2 linked regions of the Homo sapiens genome follow. The protein of the gene in region 1 purifies or fractionates together with the protein of each later gene. This does not show direct contact. Each region holds a gene or a part of one and is shown on either strand. Other genes may lie near its edges. The genes, in order: CHID1 and PTPN23.

Region 1 (3,813 bases):
CTGCTGACAGCCCTTTCTGATGGGTGATCCTGGCCCTGGACGTGACGTCCCTCATGGGCCCGCTCTGCTGACAGCCCTTTCTGATGGGTGACTTCTGTTCTTTACAACTCTCTAGAGGTGTCAGCCGCAGCATGGGGAGGATGCACCCCTCAGTGGAGGGCCCCAATGATGGCTCAGGTGCGGGGCCCTCCCTGTTGCTGAAACTCGCTCACCCCTTGCCCTGCAGGCCTGGCCCTAATGCACCCCTGTCCTGGGTTCGAGCCTGCGTCCAGGTCCTGGACCCGAAGTCCAAGTGGCGAAGCAAAATCCTCCTGGGGCTCAACTTCTATGGTATGGACTACGCGACCTCCAAGGATGCCCGTGAGCCTGTTGTCGGGGCCAGGTGAGCCAAGGGCTCTCCCTGCCGTGCTGAAGGTGTCACTGGGCGCGGGTGGGTGTGGGTGTAAGGAGACAGAGTGATGGGGAGGGTCTCGGTCCCCTGGGGCTTCTGCCCCACAGAGTCAGAGATAGGGGCTGGGCCAGGAGCCGGTCCTGCTTGGTGCCCACCCCACCGCAGCCCCCACTGTGGTCACCACCCATAACACGGCCACACATCTGCGTGAGGCTGTCCCCACATCTGCGTGAGGCTGGGACTGAGGCTTCCCCCACCCGTCAGCCTTGCCCCACAGCATACAGGCCGGGCCGGGGCCTCCTGGGTTGAATGCTCCTCCTCCTCTCCTCTGCCCGGGAGTAATTTCCTGCTTTGTGTGTTCTTGGTATGCTCTGCGAGTGTGGTTTCTTGTTGGCATTACTTTACTTTATTTCTGGAGGACATCTTTCCTGGCTGTAGAATTCTGGCTGTCGGTTTTTTCACTGGCACCTTAAGCATGTGGCCGCCCTCTCATTCGGACAGCGTTTCACCGCCACCTCTTTCTCCTGCCTGTGTTGCTGTCCTCCCTGCTCGTAGGAATATCTTGTATTTATGGCTGGTTTTGAACAATTTTATTGACGTGTCTTCATTTTCCTTTTGCACAGTGTTCATGGAGCCTCTTGAGTCTGCATTCGTACTCTTAGCAAACTTGGAAAATTTGAGGCCAAATTCTTCAAATATTTTTTCTGTTTCTTCTCTTCTGTCTTCTCGTTTGGAGACCACAAACACTAGATCCATTGAATTTGTCCCACAGCTCACGAATACACCTTTTACCTTTTGGAATTCTTTTTTTGTTGAGACGGAGTCTCGCTCTGTCGCCCAGGCTGGAGTGCAGTGGCGCAATCTTGGCTCACTGCAAGCTCTGCCTCCCGGGTTCACGCCATTCTCCTGCCTCAGCCTCCCAAGTAGCTGGGACTACAGGCGTCTGCCACCGCGCCCTGCTAATTTTTGTATCTTTAGTAGAGATGGGATTTCACCGCATTAGCCAGGATGGTCTCGATCTCCTGACCTCATGATCCGCCCACCTTGGCCTCCCAAAGTGCTGGGATTACAGGGGTGAGCCACCACACCGGGCTGGGATTCTTTTTTCTCTGTTTTCTTTTTTTTTTTTTTTTTTGAGACAGGGTCTCACCCTGTCGTCCAGGCTGCAGTGCACTGGTGTGATCATAGCTCACTGCAGCCTCAACCTCCTGGGCTGAAGCCATCCTCCCACCTCAGCCTCGCAAATAGCTGGGACCACAGGTGCATGCCACCATGCCCCGCTAATTTTTGTATTTTTTTTGTAGAGACAGGGTTTTGCCATGTTGTCGAGGCTGGTCTCAAATTCCTAGGCTCAAGCGATCCTCCTGCCTCAGCCTCCCAAAGTGCTGGGATGACAGGTGTGAGCCCCGTGCCTGGCCTGGTCATTTCTCTTGCTGTGCCCAACCTGCCATTAATCCCATCCATCCTGAGCCCGACGTGGTCATTTCTCTCACCACCCAACCTACCGCCCGACGTGGTCCTTTCCCTCACCACCCAACCTACCGCCCGACGTGGTCCTTTCCCTCACCACCCAACCTACCGCCCGACGTGGTCCTTTCCCTCACCACCCAGCCTACCGCCCGACGTGGTCCTTTCCCTCACCACCCAGCCTACCGCCCGACGTCCTTTCCCTCACCACCCAGCCTACCGCCCGACGTGGTCCTTTCCCTCACCACCCAGCCTACCGCCCGACGTGGTCCTTTCCCTCACCACCCAGCCTACCGCCCGACGTGGTCCTTTCCCTCACCACCCAGCCTACCGTTAATCTCATCCAGTGCTTTTGTCACCTCGTGTTGTAATTCAATTTTTTTTATTTTTTATGAGATGGGGGTCTCACTATGTGGTCCAGGCTGGTCTTGAACTCCTGGGCTCAAGCGATCCTCCTGCCTCAGCCTCCCAAAGTGCTGCGATGACACGCGTGAGCCACCAAGCCCAGCCAACATGTTATAATTCTCTAGAGGCTTGCTTGGGGTCCCCTTTACGTCTTCCATGTCTCTACTAAACTTTTGCAGATTGGGATTCAGTTGTAAGAACTGCTGAGTGCCCATGTCTGCTGGTTCTGATATCAGGGTCGGTTTCAGGAGGCTGCTTTTCCTCCTTGTTTGGGGTCCTATTATGCTGCCTTCCTGTGGGCCTGGTACTCTCGGGTTGATGCCTGAGGCATTGCGAATTTTACCATGTTGCGTGCTGGGTGTTTTAGCATTTTTATAAATCATCTTAATCTTTGTTCTGGATGCAGTTGAGTTTCTTAGAAACAGTTTTAGCTGCTCACTTTTCTGGAGAACCTGGTCCTTTTTGTGGAGGCCTCGGCTGTCGTCTTTACGAGTTTTTGCAGGTCCCCCACAGGCCTGCCCTCCGTGAGGGGTGTGTGCGTGTGTCAGCCCAGGCAGGTGAGCCGAGGCCAGGCCATCACCCCTGATTCCTCCTGGTCGGCCGTGGGGAGGGGCAGAGGTAACCTGCTGGATTTGCGGGTCCTGAGGGTGGCAGCAGTGGGTAGAGGAGTATGTTGGGGCAGTGTTCCCTGCCCGGCCTCCAGGGGTGCCCTCCGTGAGCCCCTCCATGGCAGATGGCAGGTGGGCCATGTTGCAAGACCAGGGTCGTGTGTGGTGGTCCCCTTAGGGAGGCTTTCCCCCGACACTCTACGTGCACACTCCTCTCTGTCCACACGGCTGGTCCTGGGGTCCAGCACAGGCCTGGGCTCCCGCTGTTCTCTGGCTTCTGGCCCTGGGTGCGCTCTGGGTCACTGAGCAGGGCCTGACCCTGCTGCGGGGGCGGACACGAGGGGGTGCTGGCTGAGGTGGGCCTGGGGTCAGCCTGGGCATCAGGCGGGGCGAAGAGCCTGGCGTCTTCTCTCCCACGTCTCACCCAGTGAGTCATAGAGAACTCAGCCACACACTGAGACACGCGGGGCTCCGCACAGGCGAGGGCGATGCCCCAGGGCCCCTGGCTCGTTTGGGTCCCCTGTTCCTGCTGAGATGGGGCACAGGTCAGTCACTGGGTGCCAGCTCTCATGTCCCTGCAATGCAGAGTGAGGGGCCCGGCCGCCCTGTCTGCCCAACTGTCTGTTCTTTCAGTTGGGGCTGCTCTGTGCTCCTGTGTGTGCTGCACCCTCCCCCACCATGGCCCTCCTTTGATGCTGGGAATCCTGGGAAGGCTCTGGAAGCACAGCTCATGTCCCCCACCTTACCACATCCCTGACATGGTGCCTGGTTCTGGGACCTTTGGGTGGAGCCATGTACAGAGCTTGGGCTCCCAGCCCAGGATCCCCTGTGCAAAGCAAGAGGCCTCCCCATGCACCCAGCCCTGCCTCAGCTCCAGCTGTGGGCTCTGCTCACCCAGGCCTTCAGGGAAGCCTCAATTCTGGTTGGGCTTTTGAAAGGGAG
Region 2 (3,813 bases), on another chromosome or scaffold:
TTTTAAAAAATAGAAATGCTCTGGGAGGCTGATGTGGGTCAACTGCTTGAGCCCAGGAGTTTAAGACCAGACTGGGCAACATAGTGAGACTCCCATCTCTATAAAATAAAAAAAAGTTTGGGCGTGATGGCTCATGTCTGTAATCCCAACACTTTGGGAGTCTGAGGCAGAAGGATTGCTTGAGGCTAGAAGTTCCAGACCAGCCTGGGCAATATAGCAAGACACTACCTCTACAGAAAATTAGCTGAGTATGGTGGTATGTGCCTGTAGTTCCGGCTTCTTGGAAGGCTGAGGCAGGAGAATTACTTGGACCCAGGAGTTTGAGACTGCAGTGAGCTATGGTTGCAGTACCACTGTAACTCCAGCCTGGGCAACAGAACAAGACCTTGTCTCGAAAATAAAATAAAACAATAAAAAATAAACTAAAAACAATTTAAATAGAAATGGAATGGTCTAATATGGAAAGAACATGGGCTCTGGAGCCCAAATGCCTGGGTTTCAGTCATATCCCCATCAGTTATTAGCACCGTGACCTTGGTGAATACCCTAACTCTTTGCCTCAGTTTCCTCATTTCCTCATCTGTAAAGTGGTGATGATAATAGTGTCTACCTCTTAGGGTTGTTCTAAGGATGGAGTGATTACTAGGCACTCAGCACAGTGCCTGACCTGTGGTAGGTTCTCAGTTAAGCATCTGCTGCTGATCTTATAGGAGGACGGAGATGAGATTCAGATAGAATGTGACCTCTAGGCATGATTTGCTAGGGGTGGGAGCAGCATCTTTCTGTCACCATTGTGTGAACAGCAGGGTCAGATGTTCCTAGTGATATCACGGGAAGCCTTGTTTCTAGGATGTAGGAGTCTCCTGTCCATCTGATTCCTTTGGCCTCTATCCCACGAGACCTCTGAGCTACACTTTTACTCATTTTCTCTAACCTAAGGGTGGGCAAAACCTCTTACTGCAAGGGAGTTAACCACAGAACATTCTCTCATATAGTCAAGTTTTACCTCATAGCTTAGGCCACATTTTAAAAAATATTTTAGTTAATTAATTATTTTTGAGATAGTGTCACACTCTCACCCAGGCTGGAGTGCAGTGGCACAATCATGGTTCACTGCAACCTTGAACTCCTGGTGTCAAGCAGTCCTCTCACCTCAACCTCCCAACTGGCCAAGAGTATAGGCGCACACCACCACACGTGGCTAATTCTTGTGCTTTTTGTAGAAATGGGGTTTTGCCATGTTGCCCAGGCTTGTCTTGAACTCCTGGGCTCAAACGATCGGCCCACCTTGGCCTCCCAAACTGCTGGGATTACAGGCATGAGCCACTGTGCCTGGCCTATTTTTATTTTTTAATACAGACAGGGTCTCACTCTGACACCCCAGCTGAAGTAAGGTGGTGCCATCATAGCTCACTGCAGCTTCAAACTCCTGAGCTTAAGCAGTCCTGCCTCAGCCTCCCAACTAGCTGAGACCACAGGCATGCACCACCACTCCTGGCTAATTTTTAAATTTTTTTTCGTAGAGATGGGGGTCTCGCCATATTGCCCAGGCTGGTCTGGAACTCCTAGCCTCAAGTGATCCTCTCACCCCAGCCTACCAAAGTGCTGGGATTATAGTCATGAGCCATCATGCCCAACCCAAGGCCACTTTTTGTAGTTGTGTTTTTGTTGTTGTTGTTGTCATAATTATTTTTGAGGGAGGGAGTGGAGAGGGGGTGGAGTTGGATAGATCAGAGTGAAGATTGTTAAATGCCTGTCAGCTCCCTAAAGTTCTTGGTAAATCCTTATGTTTGTGCATAGTTGAAAATTTCTAGGGGGATTTAATTCATGGCTTTTATCATATTCTCAAAGGACCCACAAAAGGCTAAATAAAAACCACTGATAGGGGAAAGTGGTATTCAGGTACCATTTAGCTCTTCAGCAACTCTTAAGACATTTGTTTTCCAAATTTCAAACATATAGAAAAATTGGAAGAATAATTCAGTGCTCACCCAAATTCTCACTATCTAGTATTTTTGTTTTGTTTTGTTTTTAGAGATGGGATTTACTCTTTGTTGCCCAGGCTGGACTTGAACTGCTAGGCTCAAGTGATCCTCCTGCCTCAGCCTCTGGAGTAGCTGAGACTACAGATGTGCGCTGCACCTGGCTGATTCATTTTTAAATTTTTGTAGAGATGGGATTTATTGTTATGTTGCCCAGTCTGGCCTTGAACTCTTGGGGTCAAGTGATCCTCTGGCCTCGGCCTCCCAAAGTGCTGGAAGTACAGGTGTGAACCACTGCACCCAGTGTGTTACCTAGTTTTGTTTGTTTGTTTTGTTTTTTTAAGATGGAGTCTTGCTGTGTGGCCAAGGCTGGAGTGCAGTGTTGTAATCTCAGCTCACTGCAACCTCCCCCTCCTGAGTTCAAGCGATTCTCCTGTCTCAGCCTCCTGAGAAGTTGGGATTACAGGTGCCCACCACCATGCCTGGCTAATTTTTGTGTTTTTAGTAGAGATGGGGTTTCACCATGTTGGTCAGGCTGGTCTCGAACTCCTGACCTCAAGTGATCCACCTGCCTTGGCCTCCCAAAGTGTTGGGATTACAGGCATAAGCCACTGTGCCCGGCTACCTAGTTTTGATGGATGTATTTCACCTTATTTGTTTTCTCTCCAGATAGATAGATAGATAGAGAGAGATCCCACAAGCCCTTTGAAAGTAAGTTTTGGACATCACTTTTCCCGGACACATCTCAGCATGTGTTTCCTAAGAGTGAGGACATTCTACACAATCACAATGTTATTATCATACCTAAGAAAATCTACAATAATTTTCCCCTATCTTTTATGACTTTTCCTTTTTTTTGCAGACTCAGATCCAGCTGGGGTTCTCATATTGCATTTAGTTGTGTTCTGTCCCTTTAATCACTTATTTATTTGTTTATTTATTATTATTATTATTATTTTTGGAAACAGACTGGAGTGTGCACACAGCTCACCACAGCCTCAACCTCCCAGGCTGATTCTCCCACCTCTCCCTCTTGAGTAGCTGGGACTACAGGCGTGGGCTACCATACCCAGCTAATTTTTTTTTTTTTTTTTAATTTGTAGAGATAGGGTCTCATGTTGCCCAGGCTGCTCTGGAACTCCTGGGCTCAACAGTCCTCTGACCTCAGCCACCCAAAGTGCTGGGATTACAGACTTGAGCCACCATATCCAACCTGTTTAATCATTTTTAATCTAGAATAGTCCACTGCTCAACCCCCTCCTTTTACATGACATTAATTTTTTGAAGAGAGTGGGTTCATTGTTGCCCCATTTTCTGAATTTTTCTGAGTGTTTCCTTTTCGTGTTCATCTGTCCTCTGCATTTCCTGTAAAAGCAATCATTTGCTGAGTATACAACACATCTGATAAGGCCCCTACCATTCCTTAATGCTTATTGTTTGAGGCTGGGGTCACTGGCATGACCCTGCCGTCGGCACACAGTATGTTGGAGGCATGTTTGGAATGTGAGCGGAAGAGCAGCTAATGTTCAAGGCAGTGACATTTCGGCTGAGTCTTAGTAGAGAAAGTAGGGACAATGTAGATAGGCATTGATACCTGAGAGCAGCAATTCCCAAGTACTATTGGCTGGTTGTCCCTGGGAGGTGCCAGAGGAAAATCCTTGAAGGTTGTGGGGAGCAGGTTGTTTATTTTTGTAGAGACGGGTCTTGCTCTTTTGCCCAGGCTGATCTCTAATTCCTGACCTGAAGTGATCCTCCCACCTTGGCCACCCAAAGTGTTGGGATTACACGCTTGAGCCACCTCACCCGGCCAGGAACAGGTTGTGCAGGGTCA

Evidence for each region.
Region 2: the proteins of CHID1 (region 1) and PTPN23 fractionate together in Homo sapiens (co-fractionation; one large-scale study listed by BioGRID). This does not show direct contact.

The regions. Positions count from the first base shown.
Region 1 is NC_000011.10:879,717-883,529, reverse strand, and holds part of CHID1 (chitinase domain-containing protein 1 isoform a precursor), read left to right. Parts: intron 1-226; coding exon 227-382; intron 383-1,014; coding exon of another isoform or gene 1,015-1,033; exon of another isoform or gene 1,034-2,656; intron 2,657-3,813.
Region 2 is NC_000003.12:47,390,848-47,394,660, forward strand, and holds part of PTPN23 (tyrosine-protein phosphatase non-receptor type 23), read left to right. Parts: intron 1-3,813. UniProt on the Homo sapiens protein: Plays a role in sorting of endocytic ubiquitinated cargos into multivesicular bodies (MVBs) via its interaction with the ESCRT-I complex (endosomal sorting complex required for transport I), and possibly also other ESCRT complexes.